Regions from separate parts of the Homo sapiens genome. Here regions 2, 3 and 4 are each linked to region 1. The links come from fine-mapping of genetic effects on gene expression. A gene starts in region 1. Each other region holds a variant in brackets. All regions are shown on one strand. Distances are from middle to middle.

Region 1 (7,589 bases):
GTGGCTCTGAGTGCAACACTCCAGGAAAAAACACTCTTTGATCTCAGGAAGGTTGACTCAGGCAGAAAGCCAACTGAGATCTGAGAGGACTCTTCCCCCCAGCCCCGAAGTTTCTTCCTAAGGAAAAGGTCTTCTAGCATTAAAAACATTAAATCCCCTCAATTGATGTTAACATGGTCCCCTGGGAGCTTCTGCTAGACTTAATTATCCCCCAAGAAGTGTAATCACATTAAGTAGCAAGTTCTAAGTGGAAAGTGACTGAAAGATGCTGTTCGACCCCTTGTGTTGTTTTTTGATGATAAGCCTGGTCTATGTCATTGATCAGTGGGGATTGTCTTTGATTGGCTTAAAGCCAAACCTTTTGTTGTTGTTGTTTTATCTGCCCATAAATCTAAGTGATTTTGAGTTATCTCTGCTCTTGAGATCCAAATCAACAGAGAACAAAGTATATTTGGTGAAGCAGAAATAATTCTGCTTTACTTCTCCAAGTAAAGTTGTTCAAGCTTGGAGATCGGATCAAAGCAACGGGGCAGAAGGAAAAGTAAATAGCCACATGGCATTAATTCTAATTACCTAAATGTTGGGTGAAAAATAACCCACCACACAGGTCTGGGTATCACATATGGTAACCCACATTCTCACATTCTGGGAAAGGTGAGCTAAGTAGTTTTGAGCCTTCATTTCAAAAATGCTCAAGTGAAGCCAAATAAACCAAGTAAACCAGTCTCTGGGCTGCCTATATTGTTCAGCATAGATTCTCATTGTCACATTTTATGATGGATTTCATACTGGAGCACCTCAGCCTGAAATGCTGCCACATTTATTGATGCTTAATTTTGAGCAATAAAAATTCGGTGCATAAACTATATAAGAGAAACGGTATGAAAACAGTGAAATATATAAGCCTATCAATCACAAATTTTCAGTAATGGTAGATGTAGATTTTAACACTGCATCTAATAGATTCCCTGTGGAAAGAGAATGGCATTCTTTGCTCTCAGCATGAATTTATAAATCTACAGAATTTTATTACAGGAAAACCAGGTCAAATGGAAATGAAAGATGAAGTGCACATCAAAAATGCATAAAGCTACATGCATTACAGAAATCATTTCCCATAAATTAAAAAAAGAAGACAATATAAGTTATATTGTTTTTCTCAATCGCTAGGTGCTTCTGACTTTGTTCCTTAGACTGGGGGTAGTCTTATGCTGGTTTCCTTTGCACTGGCTTGTAAAAGTGTAAGCTTTGCCAGGAAGAAATGATGTTGCAACTGGAGTTCAAAATCTCAGCTAATGATCATGTTGGACTCTGTTATGTGATTCTGCTGAGACTCTTGCATTATTTTGAATGTGCAGAAAACTTGGAAAGTGACCTCGTCTCATTAAGTTTCCTCTAGCTCTGGACAAACATCATGGTAGTGTCTGGCATCTGTTACAGGAGTGAAATAAAACAGCACTGGTTCTAGTCACTCGACAGAGTCACTTCAGAAGACATTTAGGTGGACTTGGTACCACACCAGAGCTCTTTAATCTGTGACTTCTGAGAAAGTGACAGTGTAATAAGATAATGTGGACTGCTAGACTCCCTGGCTCTGTTCAATCTCTCTAGCAGTTGATTAAGAAAGAGCAGTTTCTAATGACTCTGGACCATTAGTCCTAAATAAGGTTAATGAATTAATTTAGCAGACACTGGTTACTCAGAGGAGGTGGACATGGCTTTGAGAGGTCTGCTGAGTTACAGAGGCATTTTCTGGCTCTGGTCACTTCAAGCATAGCGACATGGCTTTTGCTGGTAAAGCTCAACAACTAAAGCCAGATTTTCAGCATTCCCCAGATTTCTGCTAAGAAAACTAAGAAGTGTGTGTGTGTGTGTGTGTACTGCATATATATTTGTGTAGTTCACAACCTAAAGTCTGATAGCTCTTTGCATTGAGCTTCAAATCTATCTTGTGAACACCCCCACTATGGATTTAGTCTCAAGAGTTGTGGAGGACAGGGTTACTATAATTTCTAGTCCAACCATTTGAGCTCTTTCAGTTGGACGAGAATGCTATTTCATTCCCTGCCAGAGTATAGAAAGATGCTACCAGCTCAGGTTCATTAATAAATTGAATTCTACATTCATAATTTTTTGTGTCTTGCTTTCCTGCCAGATTATAGAAAAATGCCATCAACTTGGGCTCATTAATAAGCTGAATTCCATGTTCATAATTTTTTTTTTTGCATGTGTTTTGCTTTAAGCATCTCTTAAAATACTGCTTGGTAGCTGCTGAGGGAAATCCATTGCTAAAATCACAAAACCTTGAAAAAGCATATTAGAGAGATTAACTTCCATCATAAAGATGTGATTTAAATTCCTGTTGGTATGAGGCCCTCCACTTGCGGTCTCTTATTAAAACAATATACCACAGTAAGTAGTGGATGTTCTTTTCTTCTAATTACTGTGATTGAAATCTAAGCCAGACAAAAGTAAATATTTGATCATTAGTTAATAACAATTGCTGACGACTTACTGTAAAGATAATTGCATACCCTTGCCTGCACTTACTTTACAGTGTGAAGTCAAACATGCCTACAACCAGATCCCATTTTAAAACACATTATTTAGGTTACATGGTACTGTTTAGACCCCAGTATAGTTTTTCATTTACTTAACAGTGAGTGATTTTAAAAGCTAAGTGGAAGCTGCAACTAGCTTAGGGATTTTCAGATATCCTGGTGCCTTACACTGTATATGTCAGATTCCTGTATTGATACTATGTAACTTTCAGTCATACTCCAGACAGATTACGGAAGGTGTACAAAGGCGGGGGAGGGAGTTTCATCAACCCACAAACCGATATCTCTGGCCGTCACCCACCAGAGGAAACGGCTTAGGGGAGCAGCAAAGGAACCAGGAAGTAAGATCTCCTGGTAAAGTGTTCATTAACTTTCAACAGCCATCAGATTTTTGAAAGGGAGTCTCTTCTAATTGCCTTTGGGAGGAAACATTATTAAGATAATTGGCATGCTGATCTGGGAAGGTAGACAGCTCTGTCTTGTAACAGAGGTAAGGAAAAGCCCCACAGCCCAAGGATCAACGTCAGGAGGGAGCCCAAAGACCTGAAATCCTCCTGCTCTAAACCGCCTGATCTCATTTCTTCTTCTCTCCTCCCAGATAAAAGTTTCCTTCGCCCGGGAGTCGGTTGTTCCCGGCTGATCCCGGGAAGCCCCGCCTGAGCCCCGGTCCGGGGCGGGCAGCTGGGAGCCGGGGCGCCGCTGTCACCCGCGCCTCTGCCTGTCACTTACCGTTGCGAAAAGCGCCGGCCGGGGCGAGGACGAGGGCGAGCACGGCGCAGAGGAGCGGCAGCCCCCTCTCCATTCTCCCTTCTCCGGGTCCGCAGGCAGACGCGGGAGAACGAGGACGTGGGGGGAAATGCAGCAAAGAGGAGAATCTAAGCGATCCGAAGAGCCCCAACTCCGCCTAGAGCTGTACAATCCTCAGCCCGTCTTGGAGAAAAGAAAGCAGCGAGGCAATGCCTGGATCCGAGAGGAACGCTTCTCTTTTTGTGTCTCAAGTCGCCTGCATCCTGTCATTTAGCTCCGGCTTCCTCTCCCTTTTCCCACACTTGTTCCTCTTCCAGGAGCCACTGCCCGGGCCATGTCTCAAAAAAAAAAAAAAAAAAAAAAAAGGCCGGGGGGGGGCTGTGGGTGGGAGGGGGAGGAGGGAGGTAGGGCAACACACACCAAAGCCAATTTCCAGGAAGAAAAAAAAAAAATCCGGCTTGTTTCTGGACCCGTTGGAGCCGCGGAGCTGGCGCCCAGGGGAGGTCCGGGTGTCTGCGGGAAGGAGGGGAACGAGCAATGAAAAGATGAGCGGGAGACAGAGGAGTTTCACCAACTGCACCCCCGCCTCCCCTCCTGCGGCCTCCCCCCACTCCGGAGCCCTTCCCTCGCTTCCTCCCGCCCCTCTCCCCGCTTGGGCTCGCCTGTAATTGCCTGACAGGAGACTGGGAGGAACAACTTTCCCTCCGAGTGCTCTCCCCGTCCGTCTGTCTGTCTTTCCCAGAGACCCTGCAGGGATCTCCGCGGGAAGGAAGGCGCTGGGAGTCTGCGCCCCGGTCGCGTGGGTGCGGGCGTCGGAGGAAGGGGCGCGGAGGTCAGTGCCAGCCGCAGGGTCTGGCCAGCCCACCTCGCGTGCTCGCTCTGCACCCCTAGAGGGAGAGCTGGGCAGCTCCTGCAGGCGCAGATCCCGCCGCCGCGCAGTGCGGAGCGCCCGGGAGGTGGCGGCTGCTTCTCGCAACTTCAAATCCCGGGGCCCGCGCCCTCGGCGGCGAGGAACGCAGGGTCACCCCCTGCCACTCCTCATCGCGCCATCCTGAGACCTGTGGCGGGGAGCAGCGGGGCACCCCTGGACGCCCCTGCCCAGAGCTGGAGGGCGAGGAGGGGAAAGCCGGGCTGGAGTGGGAGCCGCACCGCGAAGCCGGGCGAGGGGCAGCAGTGTCGCTGTGGTGTGAAGCGAAGACAGACCGCCTGGGCGGGCGAGGCCGGGCTGCAGCCCCACGCGGCCTCCCTGGCCCGCATCAGGGCGCGCGGCTGGGTGCCCTCTGCGCGCCGCGGAGGCTTCATTGTTTCCCGAGATTTGGTGCCCGTTCCTCTGGGGCAGAGGGAACACCGGAGGGTGGGAGGTGCTGCGCCTTCCAAGCAGGGGGGCAATCGCCGCCCGACCCCGCCCAACCTTGTCTGGGAGCCCAGGTGCTAGGGAGGGGTGTGGAAATCAGGGGTCGGGCGGCCCCCGTTTCTCTGTGCATCCCGAGGGAGGGAAAGAGTGGCGGGGGAGGGGTGCTCTTCGCTGCGCCCTCTCAGTGTCCGCTCCCGGCCACAGACAACGTGCACGCCGGCCCTGGAGCTCCTGCCACCCCCACTTCCCACAGCGGCTCGTGCCCCCAGCCCGCTGGATGCCCCCCAGGCCCGTCCCCGAGGGTTTTCCGAGAAGTGCTGCAGGAAGCGTTTGTAGATGCGAAAAGCAAGGACATTTCTGGGAAGAAACAGGTTGCGGTCACCGATCAGGCCCCGGAGAAGGGTCAGTGCCCACGGGGCACCTCCCAGGGAGTTTGTGGGTAAGGTGAAAAGGTCACACGCCTCCTGGGGATTGGCGTCTACACACACAGCCAAAGTACAGCCTGATTCCTACCTGGCACAAATAGCTGGCCAAAGGGAGGTAGGAATGCTGGCAAGGAGACTCTGGTCAAAGGTTTTGGCGGAAGAAAAAGGGGCGGGCAGGGAGAAAGCCCAAGGCGCGCGGGCCCCAGGCCAGGACTGCGCGCTCGCGACTCGGGCTGGGAGCAGTGACGTGCGCCCCTCGGGGTGCAGGCCGTTCCCGGGCCAGTGGGAGGTGCACCCACGGAGCCCGCACTCGCCACTCTCTTGCCCCGGGTCAAGCCTGTCTTCTCCTCCCCACGCGCCTCGGGATTCCCAGTCGCCAAGTTGGAAACTCGGCCCCCCCGAGCGCCTCTTTCCTCTGCCAGTTTCCTCCTTCTTCTCAGCTGTCGGACCCCTGGGAGGCGCGGGGTGGGAAGTGGGCACCGAAGGGCTGGGAGTTAAATGCCTAAGTTGAGCGGAAGGAGCACTGTCGAAGCCATGGGCAGCCCTGCGCCCGGGCAGGCGGGCAGGCGGGAGGCGAGGCGGGGGCGCCGACCGCGCCCAGCGCAGACCCCGGGGGAGTGAGCGCCGCAGAGGCAGCCTGGGCTCTCGGCTACTACCCGCGCGCGGTCGCCGCCTCCCCAGGTGCAGCCCCGCCAGTCCCAGCCCCCGGCTGCGCCGGGCGAGCGGCATCATCAGATTTAGGGTGACCCGGAGCGACCTCGGTCCAGGCTCGGAGGGAGAGGCGCCTCTCAGGACCTGGCAGGTTGACAGGGAAGGGGAACCGGGAGGGAGCGGCGGCCGGGGCGGCCTGGAGTCTCGGAGGCCCGCCTGCGTCCTGGGGGGACCCGACCTCCGCGCTCGCTCCGGAGCGCCCGTTTGGATAGCTCTGAGCCTCGGCGGGGTGAGCGAGGGGGCACACGAGGGAGACTTGAGCTGTGTTGTTTTTAGAAAACTGCCGCCAATCTCTCTTCCCCTTTCCCTGCTGAGTGTGCATTTTCCAGCCTAGACCCGCCAGGCCAGCAAATAAAGCCACCGGATCGTGCACTCCGGAGCGACTGCCCCCACCCCGACCTTGTCTTTCCCGAAGGGAATGGCTCCTCCGGCGCCTCAACGCACAGAAAACGCCTGCCTCCAGCTGAGCGCTTTTGCCAGCTTTCTCCAACCAGTGAATAAGGGATGCACTATGGACTCAGAAGGAAATGTCATATTTAAGTTCTGCCTCTGATTTCTCTGCTCTTAGCTGATCTAAGGTTTTTCTAGACTCCTTAGTTTCCACTCACAGTGCTGGGTAATGGAGCCCTACCGCACTGATTGAGAATTGCCGGCCAGTGGGTTGGTACAGAGCAAATTGTCCTTGCTAACAACCTTTTTCCTTTGCTGTTGGATTCCACTAAGTGGTGAGAGGGGTCAGTTTTAGATTTTTGCAATTCCCCAGCGTGGAGACAGGCCGGCTCTATACGAGAATAAGTGATAGGCAGAGGAAGAATTTGGCAGTGTTCCCGGGTTGATTTTATTTTGGTCTCTTGAACACATTATTCTTCCTGATAGAACAAATCCCTGGACTTGGTAGGACCCAGTTCCAGGGAAGGGAAGAGTCCTCTACCGCACCCCCAGAACGCCCTGCAGAGGCTGTGAGTGGGCAAAGCCCAGTTTCCTGGACTCCCACTTAGGAGGTGCTGCAGAAATAAGGCCTTCAGCTGGGGCTCCCTGAGTCGGATTGGAACCGTGGCCCATCAGTAAGAGTAGACTGGATGGTAACTGCTCGATTCCTTTCATCAAGCTCTCATCCCTTTGTCAGAAATAGATGAAATCGATTGCTCCCAGAAGGCCATTTGAGCCACTAACTCCCTCAAAGTACTTCAGATTCATGCAATATGGAGATTCGGGTTGGTAGTTCAAACTGCATCATATCTAGTCAAGTTTTTTGAAAACATCAAACCCATAAATTTCAGAAAAGCAATACAAGCTCCATATTTTTAGTAGGAGCTAACCTAGTTTTGAGATGTATGAATAGATGAAGTGAAACTGGAAAAACATTAAAAGTTGGAATTTTAATTAACTAATGTTTAAAATAAGCCTATTAGTGGTTATTCTGTCAAGTGACTGTGTCATGCAAGAGGTGTCATCTGGGCCTCATTTTTGGCCATCTCCTTGATTTGTACTGACAGAGAAGGAAGGAAATAAACAAATGAATCTTCACTTTCTGATTCTACCTTTTTAGCCTTTTAAAAGTTACCTTGAAAATTCCTCAAATATTGGAGAAACGACTACCAACTAAAACGTTAACACAAAGTTACAATGTGAAGTTTTTGTGATACAGTATATTTACTAACCAACAAGATGAAGAAAGATAATGCTAAATTTTGAATCACACTAGATTCAAAACATTTGCTAGAGTAGAGGTTACAGCCATATTTGAAAACTGTATTATTTTTCTGAGATAATAATATTAAATGATTTTGC
Region 2 (7,589 bases), 250 kb after region 1:
ACCAAAATTGTCCAGAAGCCCCTCTCGGGTTTTTCTCTAAAAGAAACCTGTCTTTGACGGTTAAGCTGCATTCTGTGTTTCTTTCCTCTTTCTTTAACTCTTACACTTCCCAGGCTCAAATGATCCTCCTGCCTCAACCCCCAAGTAGCTGCACCATCATGCCCAGCTAATTTTTTTGAATTTCAGTAGAGATGAGATCTCCCTATGTTGCCCAGGATTATCTCAAACTCCTGAGCTCAAGGGATCCTCCTGCCTCAGCCTCTCAAATTGCTGCAATTACAGGCATGAGCCACCATGCCCCACCACGTCTTATTTCTTTCTGTGTAGATCTCTTTCTTGCCTTACAGGGCACACGCTGACTATATATGTGTTATCTTAGAATTTCACTCTATCAGTCTGGGAGCAGGAATGGAGATAGAGACAGGTCTCAAGGGCTGTGTCTGTGTCTTTTGGTGAGGAAGATTCTGCAGCATCTTTCAGTATGGTCAAAGTGCTAGCTCTTACTAGGGAAAGATGGGCCACCCATCCATGCCCAGAGGATGGGGGTGGGAATGTTGTAGATTCAGCATCACTAAGGACATCTCTCCAGATTTCCTGCTTAAAGGAGTGTTTAATATCTCTGGTGCTCTGAGATCCTCATAATTAGGTCTTGAGCTTGCCTTTTATTGTGCCTGCCCTTCAGCTATAGGTGGTAAAGAGTTCTTTATATGCAACCACCATTACCACTGCAGTCTCTATGTTTCCCACACTTAGCTATTAAGTGCATAATAATGGCTCTCAGTCTCTCATTCCCCACTAACATGCAGTCAATGCACTTAGCCTTAGCCAGCCAATTGTGCTATATACATATATATATATATATATATTTTTTTTTTTTTTTTTTTGAGACAGAGTCTTGCTCTGTTGCCAGTCTTGAGTACAGTGGTGCGAACTTGGCTCACTGCAATTTCCACCTCCCGGGCTCCAGCAATTCCCCTGCCTCAGCCTCCTGAGTAGCTGAGATTACAGGCGCACACCACCACACCAGCTAATTTTGTGTATTTTAGTAGGGACAGGGTTTCACCATGTTGGCCAGGATGGTCTCGATCTCCTGACCTTGTAATCCACCCACCTTGGCCTCCCAAAGTGCTGGGATTACAGGCGTGAGCCACTGTACCTGGCCCAATTGCACTATACTTATAAGAAGTTTCCCTCATATTTCCAAATGCAGATATCATCACACCCATCGCAGCATTTGCCCTGACAGGAACATTTTCAAGGCCCCCCTACCAGTGAAATATTAGCAGTTGGACTGCATCTTGTTACCAGGACCATACACGTGCTTCTGACCTGCCAAGTAGGTGAGTTAATTTTACAACTCCACCTTGCTGTCTGTTTTCTCAAACCACTCTTGGTACCACTTGTGTTAACCCAGATCCTCTGAGAAGCTGACATTGACAGGAGTAATATTCAAGGATTTTATTAAGGAAGATGCTTTTGAAAAGAAAATGAGGGTGAGAGCTGGAAAAGGCTGGGAAAGATGTCAGGCTAGGAGGCAAGTGTGAATCTAAGTGAAGATGAGAGGGAGAGAATGTTGGGTGGAACTGTCCTAGACTGTCATGCAGTCTAAGGAAGCTTCAACAAAGCCAGCAGGGATTCCTTGAGTTTACATTGCCAAAAGAGGAGTTTAATGTCTCCCAGAAATGAATCTGCTTTTGTAGCCCTGCCACGCTCAGTCCTTGACAAGGGAGCAGTCTTGACCAAGTAAGGTGTGGCCCCGGCCAAAATAAAGCAATGTATCTCAAAGCATAGCATCTGGGGCACTGGTTGCACTCCTTATAGTGGGAGCTCTGCAAGCCACAATTTTATGGCTACCATAGAAAGTCAATGTAAGTTCAATCAAAGTCCTATGTGAAATTTTTTTTTTAATTGACAAGCTAATTCTGAAATGTAAACAGAAAAGTAAAGGACCTAGCATACCTAAAATGATTCAGAAAAGGAACAAAGCTGAAGGACTTAGACAACCTAATTTCAAGACTACAGCAATCACATATAAGGTCATGCATTGCTTAACGATGAGGATATGTTCAGAAATATGTAGGTGATTTTGTTGTTGATTTTGTATGTGTGAACATCATAGAGTGCACTTATCAAACCTAGACAGTAGAGCCTCTTATATACCTGGGCTATAAGGTCTAGCTTATTGCTCTTAGACTACAAACCTGTTCATCATGTTACTGTACTGGATACTGTAGGCAATGGGAACACAATGGTAAGTATTTGTTTATCTACATATACCTAAACATAAAAGAAAGTATAGTAAAAACATGGTATTATAATCTTATGGGACCACCATCCAGTATGCAGTCTGTCATTGGCAAAAATGACATACAGTGCATAACTGTACACATAAATTAATGAAATCAGCCTAACAGTACAGAATCCAGGAATAGACCCCTGTCTACATGGCCTATCGCAGGGGTGTCCAAACTTTTGGCTTCCCTGGGCCACACTGGCAGAATGTGGCAGAATTGTCTTGGGTCCCACATAAAATACACTAATTCTAATGATAACTGATGAGCTAAAAAAAAAATTGCATAATGTTTATGAATTTTTATTGGGCTACATTCAAAGCCATCCTGGGCTGCATGCAGCCCATGGGCCATGGCTTGAACAAGTGTGATCTGTTGGTTTTCAAAACAGTGCAAAGATCACTCAATAGGGAGAGAGATTCTTTTCAACAAATGATGCTGGAACAATTGGATATCGAGGTGCAAAAAATGAACTTTGATTCTTACCTCACACTACATACAAAAATTAACTCAAAATGGATCATAGATCTAAATAACAAATCAAAACTATAAAATTTCCAGATGAGGATATGGAAATTTTGTTTTCTTGTTACCTTGGGTTAGGCAAAGATTTCTAAGAACATAAAAATCACGAAGGAAAATTTTGATAAATTAAACTTAACTGAAATTTAAGCAGCTGGGCTCAGTGGCTCATGCCTGTAATACCAACACTTTGGGAGGCTGAGGCGGACAGATCGCTTGAGCTCAAGAGATTAAGAGCAGCCTGGGCAACATGGTGAAACCTCCTCTCTAAAAAAAGTTAAAAAAAAAATTAGCTGGCACACACCTGTAGTCCCAGCTACTTGGGAGGCTGAGGTGGAAGGATCACTTGAGCCCAGGAGGCAGAGTTTTCAGTGAGCCGAGATTGCACCACTGCACTCCAGCCTGGGTGACAGAGCCAGACCCTGTCTGGGAAAAAAAAAAAAAAAAGAAAAAGAAAGAAATTTAAAACTTTTGCTTTTGAAAATACACTGCGAAGACAATGAAAAGAAAATTCACAGGCAGGGAGAAAATATTTGCAAAACATATATCCAGAATATATGCATAATAGATAAAGAACTCTTACGGATCAATAATATGAAGACCACAGCCCAATTTCATTTTTTTTAAAAAAAAAGAAGGGCAAAAATTTTGAACTGATATTTCACCAAAGAAAATATATGAATGGCAAATAACATGAAAATATGTTTGATATTGATAGCCATTGGGAAATACTAATTAGAACCACAATAAAATCCTACTACATATGCACTAGAATATCTAAAATTAAAAAGTCTAACAATACCAAGTATTGCCAAGGATGTGAAGCCACTGGAATGCTTGTGTATTGCTAGTAAATGCAAAATGGTGCAACCACTTTGGAAAACAATTTGGCTGTTTCATATAAAGTTAAACATACAGGTGCCATTTAATCCAGCAATCTCACACCTAGGCATTTACCCAAAATAAAGGAAAATATATATTCACACAGACTAGTGAATTCATGTTCATAGCAGCTTTATTTATAGTAGCCCCAAATTAGAATCAACCTAAATTTTGGCATATCTGCATAGTCACACAATGGAATTACTTCTCAGCAATAAAAAGGAATGAACTACCAATATACCCAACAACACAGATAAATCTCACAACAATTATTCTAACTGAAAGAGTTCGGACACAAAAGACTATATGATTTTATTGATGTGAAATTCTAGAAAGGACAAAACTAGAGTAGCAGATCAGTGGTTCCCAGGGCCTGGAGCTGGGGGAAGGAGACTGTCAACACATGAGCACTGGGAAATGGGGGGATGATGGAAATGTTCTGTATATCATGAGGGTGGTGGTATAGGTGTTAAAGAAAGAGGAAAGAACACAGAAAGCAGCTCAACAGTCAAAGACAGGTTTATTTTGGGGAATAAACCTGAGAGGGGCTTCTGGCCAATTTCCGTCAGGAGCACTATCTCTTACAGACTAACAGTATATATTGGTTTTAGGGTGACGGGGCTTATCACAAGCTTGGAATGTTTCTGTGTTGGGCAGAAGTTTTTGACAGGGTTGGAATGTCTCTGGGTGGAGGGAAGGTTATCTTGGGGCTGACATCTTTCCGGCCGGAAGGGAGGTTATCTCAG[G/T]GTTGGCATGTCTCTGGTAGGGGATGTTATTTGTGGTTTATGGTCATGCTGATCTTAGCCATTAGGCTGATGCCCTTTGGATTTAGGCAGTTTTTGATCAAGGTGAAGCTTAAAATGGCAGTGCTTGTCCAAAATGGTGATGCTCCTGCTCTGACAGGTAGTAGTTACCCAACTTTATGCATTTGTCAAAACTCATTGAATTTTATACTTCAAATTGGTGAATTTTGTTGTATATATATTATACACCAATAGACTAATTTTTTTAAGTAACAGAAAATAAAATAATGATGGAGACATAAAATGGAACTTGTAGTAATAATCTTAAGGTTATTAAATAATTTTATTTAAAATTGACTTGTATTTAATGGACTGTGCTTTTGTTTCTCAGGTTTCTAAGTGCTATCTTGAAAACAGAAGTCTAATAATTTACAAAATTGACTTCTCAGTTCCAGGATGAAGTAAGAATTTTCTTCTGTGCATAAAGTGGACATCATTTGAAACAGCAACAATATTGTCATAGTAGACCCAACAAAGACTTTCACTGGACTGTCTCTCATACTGACCCATTACACAGGTCCATAATTCAGTGAAGCTATTTGGGGATAGTCATTACAATTCTACATAAATCATCAGTTCTTTACCAAGCTGCCATAATCCATGGTTAGATTTTAGAGCATCTGAGAACATGGAATACTGTATGATCTCCAATTATTTTTTGCTAAATATGACTTCTCTCAATAAGGCTTTTGACAAACATTTTGGGAATTAGCTCGTGGTTGCCTTTCTTGGCACGGACAGTGCTAGAAACTACTCAATGGTGCACATGACCACAGACCCCTAAAATCTTGAACTGATCATTGAGCTGGAGGTAGAAATAACCTATTTGTGGAGGTCAAGGTCTCTAACAAGGGAGGAGTCGGCTACCTTTACCTTTTACCATTCGTTCTCCTTTCGTATTTTCAATAGGAGAAATACAGAGAAGTTAATGGCATTGAGCGGTTCCATTGTCTACTGCCTTTCAGAGATTGAGAAGCTTGAGCCAGTTGTATGTTTTTTTGAGATTCAAATGTATTAAATAAGAAAGATATGCCAAAACAAGTCTCTAAATATTGTGATAAATTTAAGTGTTAATAATTAATAACTTATTATGAATCAATAATTCATAAATCTACTGTATATTTACCTTCATTTGGAGATAAGTCAAAAGACTACATTTGAAGCCCCTTTTGTGCATGATGTCCTGGGGAAACGTCCCTCTTGCAGCCACTCACCCCACCCCAAATAGGTTCTATTCTTCTAGGGTAAACTATTTAATTGGGGTCCGCAAAGTCCTATGAAAAGAGAATGAATAATTATTTCTATATGCCAAGAACGCTTTTAAATGCATTACTTGTATTAACTCATTCACTTTTTACAAGCGTTGTGAGAATAGGATTAATACTATGAGATAAATCCTATTAGGTGAGGAAATGAAGATAGAATAGTTAGTAACTTGCCCACTATCATGGCTGGTAAGTGGCAGAGCTGACTCCAAAGTCTGTGCTCTTAACTGTCATGTTGGAGGTTGGATCATGTAAAAGTAGCCAATTGTCAATCATGTGTGACTAACAAAATTGGCAATTTCATATGGTTCAACTTGATGTAATGCTCAGATTGGCTGAAGCTATGTTTTTATGAGCATGAATATATGGGGCACATTTGTTTCTATTGCCAGTCGAGAATACATATCAACCTTTTATCTCAATTTGACAAATCCAGTATTTATTTCTGAATTCTTTTTGCTCCAGGGCAAAGACATTTTAAAATTCATGTCTGCTTTGAGAAGGGGTGGGGGGCACAGCTAGCTAATCAGAGCTTAACAAAAGGAGGGACTTTCTAATGACTAGAGCTGTCAAAGCTGGGCTGATGGTCACTATGGACAGTGGTGGGAGCTTCTGTCCTGGGAGGTGCCCTCAGAGATGGGATATGCTATTACTCAATAAGTCTACCAACGGTTCCTGCCTCATTAGAACTCAGCCAGTGCAGGAGTTAGACATCCATCAGACTCCTGCATGCCCAGAATGTGTCAAGCTTGCCCTGCTGGACTTTTTACTATGGGTACTCTGTTTTTCTTCCTAGATGTCAACATTTAGAAATCATAGTGTTACCAGATGGTCCTTGCTCCTGGAGCTCCCAAGATGGTGGTGGGCCGCTTCCACAATGGCGGTGGGCCGTTTCCAAGATGGTGGCAAGCCTCCTGATCTCTGACCTGGGGTTCTTGGCCTCACGGATTCCAAGGAATGGAATCTTGGTCCATGCAGTGAGTGTTATAGCTCTATTAGAAGCTGTGGGTCACAGAAGAGAACCGTGGAACCCAGTGACTGTGTTCAGCTCAATTAGGACGAACCTGCGCACTTAGCAGTGCAGGAACAATGGAAAGCTTTTAGCTCAATCAGGACCAGCAATGTGTGCCTCGCTGGATCAGGAGCACAGCGGACACCCTGCTGGATCCAGAGGGATGGAAGTCAGTGGCAGGTCTGCGATGGCGGCAGACAGCAGTGGTGGACGGTGAACGAAAGCTCAGTTCAAGCCGTAACAAACAGGGACCAGAAGAGTGGGCAGTTGCAAGATTTAATAGAGTGAAAACAGAGCTCCCATACAAAGGGAGGGGACCCAAAGAGGGTAGCTGTTGCTGGCTCCAATGCCTGGGTTTATATCCCAATCATTGTCCCTCCCACTGTGCTTTCAGGCAATAGATGATTGGCTATTTCTTTACCTCCTGTTTTTGTCTAATTAGCATTTTAGTGAGCTCTCTTTACTACCTGATTGGTCGAGTGTGAGCTAAGTTGCAAGCCCCGTGTTTAAAGGTGATGCGGTCACCTTCCCAGCTAGGCTTAGGGATTCTTAGTCGGCCTAGGAAATCCAGCTAGTCCTGTCTCTCAATAGTCAAGGGGATTGTATTGAAAAATGGGGAGGTTTCTTTTGCTCTGGTTGAATATTTTTGTAATTTCATGAAGGATTCAGAGCAAAATAGTGCTCTGTCTTTCAGAAGCACATTGAGGGTCCTTAAATTTCATAGTCTAATTTTACAAGGTCCCTTTCTTGTTTCCATAGGTTACTAGAAACTATTTGTTTCTTTCCTCTGGACAGAGCCCACAGAATTCATAAG
Region 3 (7,589 bases), 540 kb after region 1:
TAAAAAAAAAAAAAAAAGAGTTTCTATTTTATAGCACTAGTTCTAAAATTGAGAAAGGGAGTGTCTGGATGGGGTGGAGAGAGCATAATGGAATCAAAAAGGAGTCTTTTCAGATAACATCTGCCCACTCTTGGAAGCTCAGGTCTTTTGGTAGAGTATGGGAAGGAGGGTGAAAAGATGGAGAGGGATGACCAGGAGGAGAGTTTGAAAAGACTTCTCAGGCAATTCTAATGGTCTTAGAATCACTTCACATGAAATAGAATAAAAAAGAATTTTCCTTCTTTCTATCTACCATTGTGAATGATTTTTCCTCCAAACTTCGCTTTGCTTTTCATCCGGCCTGACTTTTCTTATGCATTGTAGGCTGTTTCAGAAATTGCTGTAAGGATTTGCTTAGTAAAATTGTCTTAGCCAAGAAAAAAAGATTTTTGTCCTCCAATTTCAAAAACTATTAATTTGTGGTGATAACGATCTTTTACATCTTGGGAGTTTGGAGAAAATATTTAAAATGATACAATTGCCAAAAATGTGGTAAATTCCCTTTTGGGTTGCTGTTAGTTTATCCCAACCAGACCTCCCATGTTAAGGGAGTTTCCTGAACCCCCTGACTTTTCAAGACTATGAAACGTGCTCCGGGTACAGCTCCCTCAAGTCTCCACACCCTCCCACTCCATGAAAGAGACAGAACATCTGCTCCTCATCTCTGGGAAAGTATATTTAATTATTGGATGCTTTCCTTTTCAAAATGATGCTGGCTTATTGTGGGTTTTTTTCTTTTTTTTTTTAGCCTCCAGGGCACAAACAAAATAAAATCATCCCTTCGATGTTTAAATCAGATAATAGCATCTGCATCAACAAAAATAACAGCTAATAGTATAAAGTTGTTTCTTTTATACTTACTGAGAAGCAAGAGTCAATAACAGGCGATGGTTCTCTCAGCATCCATGAAATGAATTTACTAGAGGAAACTTCTAGAAGCAAGGCTGTGCCAAGTACAGGACAGGTAGGAGCAAAGGAAGATTACATCATCTCACAGGTCTGAGGATCCCACAATGATCAGCTATTGTTTCTTGGTCCTAACAGAATCTATCGGAAAATTGTGTTTGTGTGTAAGAGACAGAGAGAAAAGAAAAGAAAAAAAAAAACCACTGGGGGAAGACAGGGAAACAAACCAAGCATGTGAGTCCTCTTACTGAGAAAACATGATGCCTTTCACATCTTGATATAAAAGATGGTTAAAATGAGAAGCAGAGATTTCACTGCAGTAAATATTTACCGAAGAACCCACAAAAGTTTAAGAAAGTGTGGTCCTGGTATCATTCACATTTGAGCACCAACTAAAGACCAACATTACCCATTTCCGTAAGAATTTTGGAGGAACAGCTTTGTCATTTTTCTAGTGTCTTATTTGTTTTAAATCCTGTTCTTCTAAAAGCAAATAAGAACTAGCCAAAAGAAAATTTGTTCTTGTTTTAGAGCAGGAGAGGGAGAAAAAGATAGGAAACATTCACCAGTTTCAATTCAATGTAACTCAATGAATATTTCCCGAACCACTTCTAAGCCAGACAGAGTCTCTGTTCTCCGGGAGTGGATATCTACTCAGGAGACCTGCAATTAAAGACTTGTGTAGTGCAGTTTGGAGGGGAACTTAACTCAGACTTGGAGGGAGGGGCAGACCAAGGTAGGTTCTCAGAGAAGGGATATCTACACATCTTTCCTAAGCTCAGCTGCTTTTTCAGAATTTCCAGGGAAGCCTTTGAAACTACATATTCCAGGATCTCTCTCTGGATCTTTTGAAATTAGAATCTCTAAGAGAGGACTGCACATTTATGAGTTTCCCCAGGCAAAACAGAAGTGGTGGTCTGATCTGGGCTGTGGGAGGAGAAGAAATATCAAGGATGTATAGGAGCCTGGAGGTGAGGACAAGCCTGGAGGTGAGGAAGAACTGGAGGACAGTTGGATGTGACTGTGCCTGAGAGAACAGTGTGGGGACAGTCAGCTGTGGAGAGAAGGGCAGCCACGTCATGAGGGCCTGTGCACAGTGGAGAGGAGCTTGGCCTTCCTCTAAGGACAATGTTGTTGGATGAATGGGAGATGGCAGCTGGAAGGAACTGCTATCATGGGGGCTGTGGAGATAGCCGTGAGAATACAGGGGAGCCACACCAGAACCAAGTCCTTCTCCAGGGGTTTTAAACAGTCAGGGGGACTGGCATGGTGGCTCATGCTTATAATCCCAGCACTTTGGAAGACAGAGGTGGGAGGATCGCTTGAGCCCAGGAGGTGGAGGCTAGAGTGAGCCGTGATCACACCACTGCACTCCAGCCTGGGAGGGAGACCCTGTCTCAAAAATTAAATAAAATATAAAATTAAAATAAAATAAAATAAAATAAAATAAAAACCAAGAATCAGTTCCTTCGCTCTTGTTCTATTATTTACCACCTTGCCCCCTTCCCCTTTCTCTATATGCCTTCCCATGGGGAAAGCAAATGAGGTGGAAATATACATGTTGATGAGGTGGAAATATACATGTTGTTTACAACCAGCTGGTATACCCTTGCTCTTTCACTTGAATTAGCAGAAACGTACACAAATTCATGAAAGGAGAAAGGATGCAGCCCTAAGCCCTTTCGACCACCCCTCTGGCAGGCTGCCTTGTATTACTTCTTTCTCCACCAACACTGCTTTTGATGCTCATTTTAGCCGCATTTGCTTGTCAACCACTATCATGGTTTGTTTGCGCCCTCTCCCTCTGATGATGGGGCTGGACCCATGCCCCTGAGACACATGGTAGGATGGTATGCACACTGTCCACCCTGTCATATGACCATATCCTCAGATTACAAATCTCCTTCCTGGCTTCATTAGGGAGTCCTAATGTTGTAATGTAAGAATCTGAGTGGACTGGGTGCAACAATAAAGAAGGGATACATAACAGAGGAAAGGTAATCTTTCATCTTCATGTTCCAGGCAGCCCCACCCCTCCCCCTAAGGTGCACTGATGCTAGCTTGACTAGTGAAACTGGAAATCAGGAAGAGATGTCAGTAGGAAGATTTAGTAAAAACATTTAGCAGTAAGGTCAAGAGATAGATCTTTGAAAACCACA[A/G]ATTTCTCCCCAAGCCTCTGTTTAAGTGAGTACACTTTCACTAATAAGAAGTGAGGTTTCCTGAAGCAGAGGAAGTAGATAAGCAAGAGAAAACCAACTCCTTGATAACAACAGTTAATACCTTTACCAGTAACCACATATAAAATAAACTGTGCTGGGGGACAAATTAAAGACATCCCCTTCTTCCACCAGGTTTTCAAACAGGGACTTTTATTGAAAGAATCACCCAGCCCGGAGAATGTCAAGTTAAATGTAACTACAGATATTGGCCAACAGGTCACTCCAATCCTTACACAGCTTCTTGTAGCTCTATTTCTGGGGTTTCTAAGGGTGAGGGGGAAAGTAATTAAAGAATGGCTAAGCTTGGCTGGGTGCAGTGGCTTACACCTGTAATCCCAGCACCCAAGGTGAGGAATTCGAGACCAGCCTGGCCAACATGGTGAAACCCCATCTCTACTAAAAATACAAAAAATTAGCCGGGCATGGTGGTGGGCACCTATAATCCCAGCTACTCCGGGAGGCTGAGGCAGGAGAATAGCTTGAACCCAGGAGGCGGAGGTTGCAGTGAGCTGAGATCACACCACTGCACTCCAGCCTGGGCAACAAGAGCAAAACTCCATTTCAAAAAAAGAAAAGAAAGAAAGAAAGAAGAAAGAATGGCTAAGCTAAAACTTTGTTTTCTACTTTGGATTCAATCCTAACTATTTGAACCCCAAATCAAAAGATGGAGAGTCTGGGAGCTTTGGTTTCCCCTACTCAAAAGTATTTTCTCTTAAAGCTAGGCTAATAGGTTGGAAAGAGGACTCACAGCTTGAAAACACCTAATAAAGGTCATTTTGAAATGCAGACATTAATGTTGGCGAAAGAGAGCTTTCATACAACAAATCATACTAGGGAGTGTACAGCAGTGTCTTTCCATTGGATTCTTGTTTTAGAGGCAAAAAAATCCTCCCATATGAATTGAGTTATTATTCTAATGTTGTAGTTTAAATCTGTTAAATAAAGCCAAGATTCAGATCAAAGGTAAAGCAATTTAAAATAAAAAACCTAAGAGCTGAGCTCCTTAACTGAGCTCTGCTAAAACAGAGAAAACTTAACAAAATAAGAGTATCACCATCTTGAGCTATTCTTCCCAGGAGACGGAAAGAAAAATGGAGCAATAAACAGAAGCAGAGAAATGCAGGGGAGATAAGGAAGCCAGAGTATTCTGTTATCCATGGGCAGGTGGCTTGTCTGTGTCTCGCTCTTTAACTGAACCCAAATTCTGAATGTGTAAGTGAGGTAGAATAATAAGTCTTTCCTTCGGTGTTTGATATAGTCTGAAGCTTGTGAATACGGATTCAGAAACATCTGTCTTCCACATCATCTGACTATAGCTTGCCTTAGACTAAAATCTTGGGTGGAACTAATAGCTCCAGTCATGCGAGTTGATGCTTCCCAGGAAAGGAGGTGGGAACACAGAAATATTAATACAACCATCAGAGAAATGACTTGAAGCCAGCAGCTGATGTTATTTAGTCTCATTGACTTACAAGGACTGGGTAGTTTTGAAAGGGAGTTATGAACATGGTTAAGGGCTTGCTTGAAGAAAATGTTGGCAGGTATCAAAACCAGACTGTGGCCACTTCTAAGATTTCAGTTGACATGAATTTGTGGTTGAGAAGTCAGGAGGATTTCTCTGGATCTAGAGTTCAGTCCTTCCTAGTCCAATGCCAAATCCAAACTGGGCATGAAAGCCAATCTTTATAGAGTCAAAGACACCAACAGTATAAAAACTTTTATAATCTGGTTTCTACAACATGATTCTGGTTGGTTAAATTTCCATCATGTTGAGGAAGACGAATGGAAGTCATCAAAGGCAGGAGGCGAGTCTAGGCCTGCTTGGGGTCCAGGGATTAAAAAATTTATACTGAGTAATTCCTTAGCCTTCAAGCCCGAAAAATGCAATAATGAAATCAGGTTTGATCCTGAAGAGATAACCTGGGCACTGCAACATCAAGTCAAGAATCTTCCATTTTTCTGTTTCAGCTCTAAAAGCAAATTAAGTAAATGTGGCCGAAATCAAACGTTTCAACTTTATGAGTCATCATCCCCAAAATAATATTTATGTTTATATAAAAGAACAACAAGGTATTATTTCTGAATCTGCATTTAAGATACACTTAGAATCTGTATAATACTTTACATTTATTTTATTCCTAATTATTTAAAATCATTCGGAAAGTCACAGGATGATTTTTATGGCAATTTCATGTTCCTGACTTCAAAGAAGTCACATTATTTTCCTAGATAGGCCCAGCAGCACAGATCCCAAAGTCACAAGACTGCTTATTTTCAGTGCCCTGCTTGGCAGGTCATGCCTAGTCTCCAGATGGGTGGTTTAGTGACATAGAACTTCATTTTGAGTTATGAGATCTAAGTAGAGGTCCAAGCTACTACCCCTGGGTCCAGTGATATTGGGCCAATTTGCAGTGATCTATATTTTTGACTTGACTTATATCTAGCCCCTTTGAAACTGTATTCCCGGCTGGGCACAGTGGCTCATGCCTGTAATCCTAGCACTTTGGGAGGCTGAGGCGGGCAGATCTCCTGAGGTCAGGAGTTTGAGACCAGCCTGGCCAACATAGAAAAACTCTGTCTCTACTAAAAATACAAAAATTAGCTGGGCGTGATGGCAGGCATCCGTAATGCCAGCTGCTGGGAGGCTGAGGCAGGAGAATCGCTTGAACCCGGGAGGCGGAGGTTGCAGTGAGCCAAGATCTGGCCATTGCATTCCAGTCTGGGCAACAAGTGCGAGACTCTGTCTCTCAAAACAAACAAAATGAACAAACAACAACAACAACAACAAACTATATTCCCATCAGTTCTGTTCCTAAGTTCTTTAACTTTTGTTATTAAATACTTTTATTGCATCTATGAGAAAAATGCTTTTATGAAATACTGATATACTAAAGCATATAATTTCAAGCCATCTAACCATTGCATAAACATGACATGTGAAGTAGCAAACTGTATTTATTAACAACATAGTCTCTGGAGTCAACTTCCTAGCTTTGTATCCCTAGCTTTAATGATACCTATTAGATATGTAATCTTGAGCAAGTTTTTTAACTTGTCAGTGTCTGAGGTTTTATAAGTTATCTGCCTTATAACTTTTTTCTTCTTCTCCATTCTTTTTTATACTTTATTTTTTTAATTCACACATAAAAATCATACATCTTTATGAGATACATAGTGATATTTTGATGCATATATGCATAGTGATCAGATCAGGGTAATTAGCATATCCATCATCTCAAACAATCAGCATTTCTTCAGTGAGGAAAATAAGGCACATACCTCATACAATAATTATGTGAGAATTAAAAGCAATAATTTATGTAAAGTTATTAAAAGAATGCCTAATGCATAGTATAGTGCTAGACAGTCTGTTTCTATCAAATCAATATTTGTACATAATTTAAAAAATAAAATAGTACTGAGTGGGAGGAAGGGGAAGAGGGGTTCTAACCAATCCATAAATGGAATTTCCAGCCTTTAGAGATAGCTTTTTGGCCAGTTCTTGAGCCTACCCTGGGTCCAGAGTCTGTGAAATACTAAAAGGCCTTTTCATCGTCATTTCTTCCTGAAGGCACATAGATTTCCAATGTCTAGTCCCCCCTGTCTTGCATCTTCTGAAACTTCTCGTTTACCGTGTGTCCTCTCTTATCCTTTGATCTTCAACTTTTTGAAATCATTTACCATCAGCTTTGAAGCAATTGGTATGGTGCAAGGCCGATGGTCTATGTTCAGTGCACCACAGTGTTTAATTATGTTAAATATTTTACTATTTAATATAATAATAATGTTCATATTGCTAAATATTTTAATTATGTTAATTAAATAATGTTAAGTATTTTACTATATGCCGTCATAATAATGTTAAATATTTTACTATTGTTGTTATTAACACACAATAACAGTATCAGCTGATATGACTATCATAATCATCATTGAGCTTGTCTGTTCACTATGAATCTAAAAAGTTCAAACAAGGGGCCAGGCGCGGTGGCTCAAGCCTGTAATCCCAGCACTTTGGGAGTCCGAGACGGGCAGATTACCTGAGGTCAGGAGTTTGAGACCAGCCTGGCCAACATGGCAAAATCCTGTCTCTACTAAAAATACAAAAAATTAGCCGGGCCTGGTGGCACGCACCTGTAGTCTCAGCTACTCTGGAGGCTGAGGCAGGAGAATCACTTGAACCCAGGAGGCAGAGGTTGCAGTGAGCTGAGATCGTGCCACAGCATTCCAGCCTTGGAGACACAGTGAGACTCCATATCAAAAAAAAAGAAAAAAGAAAAAAGAAAATTCAAACAAGGAAGCATTGGTGAAGAGTCGGAGCCTGGGTATGTTCTGTATATCTCAGCCCGGCTCTGAATAGTTCAGCAGTAGAAAATCCTTTCTCCTCCCTCTCAGTGACACCCTGATAGTGGCTTTGCTGAAACT
Region 4 (7,589 bases), 180 kb after region 1:
TTCATTATAAATAACAAAAATAGTCCTATCACTCAGAAGATTCCAGGGGTTTTAGGAACCCCATGTCAGGAACTGGGAACAAAGACCAAACATATTTCGTATAATACCCCAATGACCATTACCAATTGTCATAGCCATCCAAGGATACAGATGTATTTCATAAATAGTCCTCTTAGTGTGGCTTAGGGATAAAAGTTTGTAGACACCTGCTCCAAACTTTGAACATTGAATTTAAGGTTGGCCAACCTCAGGCACTCTGGTGTGTTATTTATAAATAATAATTCTTCACCCCCCTCGTCCTCTTATCTGTCATATGAAGAGCCCATGGGAACCCTTAGCATCAGGAATCCAACTAATTTCCATTTGATGGGAGGATACAGCTGGACTTCCTACCCCCATACTGACATTCCTACTTGGCAGAGGCGTGACACTACCCTTATTTAGGATTCAAGAAACTTGCTATTTAAGATTTAGGAAAAATTCCTTTCTTCCAGGGACATTTCTCTTGAACATGTTTTGTTTCACATGTAATTTAGTGGTCACCTAGGGGCCAAAGAAAAACAGAGACTTTTGTCTATTTGTTTATTTCTTAAGGCTATCATGAAAGAAAATCCACGAATAACTTGAGCTGTCAATGGAAACCTTTTTTTAGGACTAGATCTCTCCTTCACATTTAGGTAGTGACTGGGACATTTATGGAAGAAAAATAAATAATAATAATAATTATTATGATAGCTTATCATTGTTCAGCCTTTGTTCTGTGCCAAAGATACAGATGATCTCATCTCATTCTTACAACAACCATGTGAAATTGGTGCTATGATTAATTTCAGTTTCACAGAAACTGAGGCCAGTGAGGTTAAGAAACTTCCTAAAATCACACGCAGCTAGTTAGTGTTGCAAAATCTGAACCCAAGCAATATGTCTCAGTAGCATGTGCCCTCTAGTATATATGTGTATATATATGTATAGGATAAAAGGATTCATACTTTTGTAGCAGGTATAAATCTTAGTCTATAAACTCAGATGCTTTATTTTCCATAAATCAATGTAATATCCTCTCTAAGCCCTTTTCCCACTGGGCTGGAGGAAATAAAAGCTTGACCATTCTTGAGGTTTCTCTATCACCATCTTCAGCAGATTTGAGCAGGGCTTGGGGATCTGCCTGACATGTCAAGATATTGGATAGACTAGGCCCCTCTGTTTGATGCCTGTTGAGAGGCACATTGTCCCTGGCCACGTGATAATCTCTGTTCTGTGGGCTTCTGTACCAAGCTTGGGACCAAGAGTCTTGGGGCACTTCCCCAGGTGTATCACACACTCACCTTCCCTGAGGTCCCGCCATGGCCTCAGGGAGCAGGAGCAGATCCTCATACTCTTGGACTAGGGAATTTTTTTTTCTTTTTTTTTTTTTTTTGAGACAGTCTCATTCTGTTGCCCAGGCTGGAGTGCAGTGGCGCAATCTCGACTCACTGCAACCTCCACCTCCCAAGTTCAAGTGATCCTCCTACCTGAGCCTCCAGAGTAGCTGAGCCTCCAGAGTAGCTGGGAGTACAGGCATGCGCCACCACGCCTGGCTAACTTTTGTATTTTTAATAGTGACGGGGATTCACCATGTTGGCCAGGCTAGTCTTGAACTACTGACCTGAGGTGATTCACCTGCCTTGGCCTCCCAAATTTCTGGGATTACAGGCGTGAGCCACTGTGTCTGGCCTGGACTAGGGAAATCTTAATTGCTCTGAGAAAATGCAATCTCCTCTTCTTTCCTCCCTCCCTCCTTCTCTGTCTTTTACTCTCTCTTCTCTCCCCGTGAGAGAGCTGCACTTTGCACTCTTTCTTAAGCCACCGATCTTCTCAATGGACTCAGAATTTTGACAGCTTTTACAGTAGGGAACCCTACCACAGCACGGACCTTGATACCTCTTTGAACAGGCGAAGGTCAAGGCAAAACACAGAGTGAAAGCTTCAATAAATATTTCAAAACACACTCTTGCCACATCACCTTTCGCTTATTTTTACAATATGCTGCACGCTTACTCACTCTCACACTCACAAACATAACTGCACAAACATCATTTCCCATTCTTTTGATGTTTAAATACTTTCCTTCTCCTATCAGATGAAGTTTATATTATCTAGGCTTTGTCTCTGACAATTCTGATGTTGTTGTTATGGAAATATGTCAAGACATTTCTTTGTAAAAATTCCCAATGAGGCTGGGCACAGTGGCTCACACTTGTAATCCCACCACTTTGGGAAGCTGAGGTAGGAGGATCACTTGAGTCCAGGAATCAAGACCAGCCTGGGCAACATTGTAAGACCCCATCTTTACAAATAATAGTAATAATAATTAGCTGGGCATGGAGTGCATGCCTGTAGTCCCAGCTACCCAGGAGGCTGAGGTGGGAGGATGGCTTGAGCTTGGGAAGTTGAGGGTGCAGTGAGCTGTGATCATGCCACTGTGCTCTAGCCCAGGTGACACAGTGAGATTCTATCTAAAAAAAATTTTCCAATAAACTTTACATTATAGTGATGCCCCTGTGGTTGTGGGCAATGTATAAATGATTTGACTAATTTTTTCCCATATGTCAATTCAACCCTCAATATTTTCCAAATTTATCTTAGAATTTATATTTAAATTTATGAATTATCTTGAAAGACCTGATTGTTTGGAATCTACCCTCATCTATTCTACTTATTTGAATCTTTAGAAAGATTATTAAAGGAATATTTAAGTGTGTTGTTTCATGGAAATTAGGAATACCGAGTTATAATGTAAATATATTCATTCAGAAACTGGGGTGGGGGTCGGGGGGGAAGTCCTCAGGGAAGATACAGTATTCACTATTGACGTTGGTTTAATATTGCTTTGTACAGTTGTTTAATATGTACGTTGTTTGTATTTTATCTTGTATATATCTCTCCACCACACATTAATCCTTGGACTGTTAGTACATACAGAACACATGTCGGGATGCTTTCTCAGTGGACCTCATCTTCAGGGATCATTTTATTTCCACAGTTTAGTGCCTCCTTACTAGAATAGAGAACTCCATAATTTTTTCTAAAGATTCTATCAGTCTTGATCCAATGTGCTAGGTGATAAATGACTGAACGCTGGCCCCGGAGGGGAAGTTAGCAATGAGTCATGCTGTCTCCTAGTAACCAGTCAGTAAATAGCTTCCAGCAAATATTTTAAACCTCAAAGCACACTTACCTTTGGTATTATCCTTAGACAGACTATCCTCATCTATATCTGCACTCTCATCTCTCTTTCAGAACTTCTAAGAAAGGAGAAAAAGTGGGATCGGGTTTGCATATGACGTCACCCCCTTGAAAACCCACATGAAAACATTCCTACCCCAGGGAGTCTGTCTCAACAAACCTTTTCCTTGATTTGTTTCTCTGTATTTTGCTTGCCCTCAAATGTTATGAAGCCATGTATACTCCACGTAATTTTCATTTGTTTGTTTCTAGATAGGCCCTTCTATGTAACTATTCAATGAGTCCATACTGATGTGTGATTTCAGAGTTTAGCATGGAGGTCAGCACACGATCAGAACAGAAAGCGACACTCAAGCACCCTGCTCACACATCCCACCAATGACACTGTTTCAGACTAATTAATTTACATGTGTAAAGGTTATTTAAAACATAAATCCTCCCTAAGTGAGAGGTGGGAAAGGGGAGAATTAAGCCTATTAATCTTGTTCACCTTATCCCCACGTAAGACTGTTTTCTTTAGACATTTAGGGTCAGACTCTGTAGCATGGGAGTCCTTATTAGGGATATGGAAAAAAACACGAGAGTTCGTTTTGGAGCATGGAACATCAAAAGATGTGTCTATGTAAATGAATGCAAAAGGCTACTTTAGATGGACAGAGAGCAGCAAGAGAGCTCCAGACTTTAGCAAAGGAGGGATGCAAAGAGAAATAACTAGGAAGGGAAGATGAGTAGCAGGAACCAAGGTCACTGTGAACCCTCTTAGCCTAACTCTAAGGTACGGCTGCAAGTCTCTGAATTAAACTGTGAGCCTTTTAAAGATGTGATTTCTTCTGTTTCCTTGTTTTCCTCTAAAACTC[T/C]ATACAGAGTAAGTGTGCAGCAAATGTTTGCTGAACAAATACACTTCCATTTTAGGTAAAAAGTATAGATGGTCCCTAGACAGAAAATAAAGCACTAAGACTGTTTGGCAGGGTTATAAGAGGTAGCGCTGAGATTTTGCCAAGAAGGCTTTTGGCTTTTGGCTTTTGGAAAATTAGTCCCAAAAGTTAGTGCTCTCTTGGATAAACTGAACCCCCGATCCTTCTTCAGGGCATCTTTTAAAATTTATTTATTTTTTATTTTTTTCAGACCAAGTCTCACTCTGTTGCACTCCCAGGCAGGAGTGCAATGGGGTGATCTCGGCTCACTGCAACCTCCACCTCCCAGGTTCAAGCTATTCTCCTGCCTCAGCCTCCCAAGAAGCTGGGATTACAGATGCTCGCCACCATGTCTGGCTAATTTTTGTATTTTTAGTGGAGACAGGGTTTCACTATGTTGGCCAGGCTGGTCTCGAACACCTGTCCTTAGGTGATCCACCCACAGGGCATCTTTTTTTTTTTTTTTTTTTTTCTTTTTTCTTTTTCCTTCTTTTTATTTTTTTTATTTTTTATTTTTATTTTTATTTTTTTTATTATACTCTAAGTTTTAGGGTACATGTGCACATTGTGCAGGTTAGTTACATATGTATACATGTGCCATGCTGGTGCGCTGCACCCACTAATGTGTCATCTAGCATTAGGTATATCTCCCAATGCTATCCCTCCCCCCTCCCCCGACCCCACCACAGTCCCCAGAGTGTGATATTCCCCTTCCTGTGTCCATGTGATCTCATTGTTCAATTCCCACCTATGAGTGAGAATATGCGGTGTTTGGTTTTTTGTTCTTGCGATAGTTTACTGAGAATGATGGTTTCCAATTTCATCCATGTCCCTACAAAGGATATGAACTCATCATTTTTTATGGCTGCATAGTATTCCATGGTGTATATGTGCCACATTTTCTTAATCCAGTCTATCATTGTTGGACATTTGGGTTGGTTCCAAGTCTTTGCTATTGTGAATAGTGCCGCAATAAACATACGTGTGCATGTGTCTTTATAGCAGCATGATTTATAGTCCTTTGGGTATATACCCAGTAATGGGATGGCTGGGTCAAATGGTATTTCTAGTTCTAGATCCCTGAGGAATCGCCACACTGACTTCCACAATGGTTGAACTAGTTGACAGTCCCACCAACAGTGTAAAAGTGTTCCTATTTCTCCACATCCTCTCCAGCACCTGTTGTTTCCTGACTTTTTAATGATTGCCATGCTAACTAGTGTGAGATGATATCTCATAGTGGTTTTGATTTGCATTTCTCTGATGGCCAGTGATGATGAGCATTTCTTCATGTGTTTTTTGGCTGCATAAATGTCTTCTTTTGAGAAGTGTCTGTTCACGTCCTTCGCCCACTTTTTGATGGGGTTGTTTGTTTTTTTCTTGTAAATTTGTTTGAGTTCATTGTAGATTCTGGATATTAGCCCTTTGTCAGATGAGTAGGTTGCAAAAATTTTCTCCCATGTTGTAGGTTGCCTGTTCACTCTGATGGTAGTTTCTTTTGCTGTGCAGAAGCTCTTTAGTTTAATTAGATCCCATTTGTCAATTTTGGCTTTTGTTGCCATTGCTTTTGGTGTTTTGGACATGAAGTCCTTGCCCACGCCTATGTCCTGAATGGTAATGCCTAGGTTTTCTTCTAGGGTTTTTATGGTTTTAGGTCTAACGTATAAATCTTTAATCCATCTTGAATTGATTTTTGTATAAGGTGTAAGGAAGGGATCCAGTTTCAGCTTTCTACATATGGCTAGCCAGTTTTCCCAGCACCATTTATTAAATAGGGAATCCTTTCCCCATTGCTTGTTTTTCTCAGGTTTGTCAAAGATCAGATAGTTGTAGATATGCGGCATTATTTCTGAGGGCTCTGTTCTGTTCCATTGATCTATATCTCTGTTTTGGTACCAGTACCATACTGTTTTGGTTACTGTAGCCTTGTAGTATAGTTTGAAGTCAGGTAGTGTGATGCCTCCAGCTTTGTTCTTTTGGCTTAGGATTGACGTGGCGATGCGGGCTCTTTTTTGGTTCCGTATGAACTTTAAAGTAGTTTTTTCCAATTCTGTGAAGAAAGTCATTGGTAGCTTGATGGGGATGGCATTGAATCTGTAAATTACCTTGGGCAGTATGGCCATTTTCACGATATTGATTCTTCCTACCCATGAGCATGGAATGTTCTTCCATTTGTTTGTGTCCTCTTTTATTTCCTTGAGCAGTGGTTTGTAGTTCTCCTTGAAGAGGTCCTTCACATCCCTTGTAAGTTGGATTCCTAGGTATTTTATTCTCTTTGAAGCAATTGTGAATGGGAGTTCACCCATGATTTGGCTCTCTGTTTGTCTGTTGTTGGTGTATAAGAATGCTTGTGATTTTTGTACATTGATTTTGTATCCTGAGACTTTGCTGAAGTTGCTTATCAGCTTAAGGAGATTTTGGGCTGAGACGATGGGGTTTTCTAGATAAACAGTCATGTCGTCTGCAAACAGGGACAATTTGACTTCCTCTTTTCCTAATTGAATACCCTTTATTTCCTTCTCCTGCCTGATTGCCCTGGCCAGAACTTCCAACACTATGTTGAATAGGAGTGGTGAGAGAGGGCATCCCTGTCTTGTGCCAGTTTTCAAAGGGAATGCTTCCAGTTTTTGCCCATTCAGTATGATATTGGCTGTGGGTTTGTCATAGATAGCTCTTATTATTTTGAAATACGTCCCATCAATACCTAATTTATTGAGAGTTTTTAGCATGAAGGGTTGTTGAATTTTGTCAAAGGCTTTTTCTGCATCTATTGAGATAATCATGTGGTTTTTGTCTTTGGCTCTGTTTATATGCTGGATTACATTTATTGATTTGCATATATTGAACCAGCCTTGCATCCCAGGGATGAAGCCCACTTGATCATGGTGGATAAGCTTTTTGATGTGCTGCTGGATTCGGTTTGCCAGTATTTTATTGAGGATTTTTGCATCAATGTTCATCAAGGATATTGGTCTAAAATTCTCTTTTTTGGTTGTGTCTCTGCCCGGCTTTGGTATCAGAATGATGCTGGCCTCATAAAATGAGTTAGGGAGGATTCCCTCTTTTTCTATTGATTGGAATAGTTTCAGAAGGAATGGTACCAGTTCCTCCTTGTACCTCTGGTAGAATTCGGCTGTGAATCCATCTGGTCCTGGACTCTTTTTGGTTGGTAAACTATTGATTATTGCCACAATTTCAGAGCCTGTTATTGGTCTATTCAGAGATTCAACTTCTTCCTGGTTTAGTCTTGGGAGAGTGTATGTGTCGAGGAATGTATCCATTTCTTCTAGATTTTCTAGTTTATTTGCGTAGAGGTGTTTGTAGTATTCTCTGATGGTAGTTTGTATTTCTGTGGGATCAGTGGTGATATCCCCTTTATCATTTTTTATTGTGTCTATTTGATTCTTCTCTCTTTTTTTCTTTATTAGTCTTGCTAGCGGTCTATCAATT

Direction of the effects. Positions count from the first base shown, and alleles are read on the strand shown. Sizes are in standard deviations (SD) of each study's normalised expression. Not every link is listed here.
As copies of C replace T in region 4, the expression in tibial artery of the gene that starts at base 3,648 in region 1 goes up (small effect, 0.16 SD a copy in GTEx).

The links. PIP is the estimated chance that this variant, and not a neighbour inherited with it, causes the effect.
Region 2: its variant is fine-mapped to the expression of NRP1 in whole blood (INTERVAL, PIP above 0.99).
Region 3: its variant is fine-mapped to the expression of NRP1 in whole blood (TOPMed, PIP above 0.99). The same link has a PIP of 0.9 or more in blood mononuclear cells, monocytes, monocytes after LPS, monocytes after Pam3CSK4 and monocytes after R848.
Region 4: its variant is fine-mapped to the expression of NRP1 in tibial artery (GTEx, PIP above 0.99).

The regions. Positions count from the first base shown.
Region 1 is chr10:33,331,020-33,338,608 of GRCh38, forward strand. It overlaps NRP1 (neuropilin 1), which reads right to left and starts at 3,648. Exons shown (of 17, transcript NM_003873.7): 1 at 3,291-3,648. The coding sequence starts at 3,363.
Region 2 is chr10:33,584,998-33,592,586 of GRCh38, forward strand. LINC02628 (long intergenic non-protein coding RNA 2628) reads right to left here. Exons shown (of 4, transcript NR_187516.1): 3 at 5,625-5,772. Among named protein-coding and RNA genes, the nearest start is that of LINC02628, 12 kb to the right of the region's middle. The variant G/T (reference allele first, on the strand shown) is at 4,442.
Region 3 is chr10:33,868,612-33,876,200 of GRCh38, forward strand. No RefSeq gene overlaps it. Among named protein-coding and RNA genes, the nearest start is that of LINC02629, 32 kb to the right of the region's middle. The variant A/G (reference allele first, on the strand shown) is at 3,105.
Region 4 is chr10:33,506,188-33,513,776 of GRCh38, forward strand. No RefSeq gene overlaps it. Among named protein-coding and RNA genes, the nearest start is that of LINC02628, 91 kb to the right of the region's middle. The variant T/C (reference allele first, on the strand shown) is at 4,083.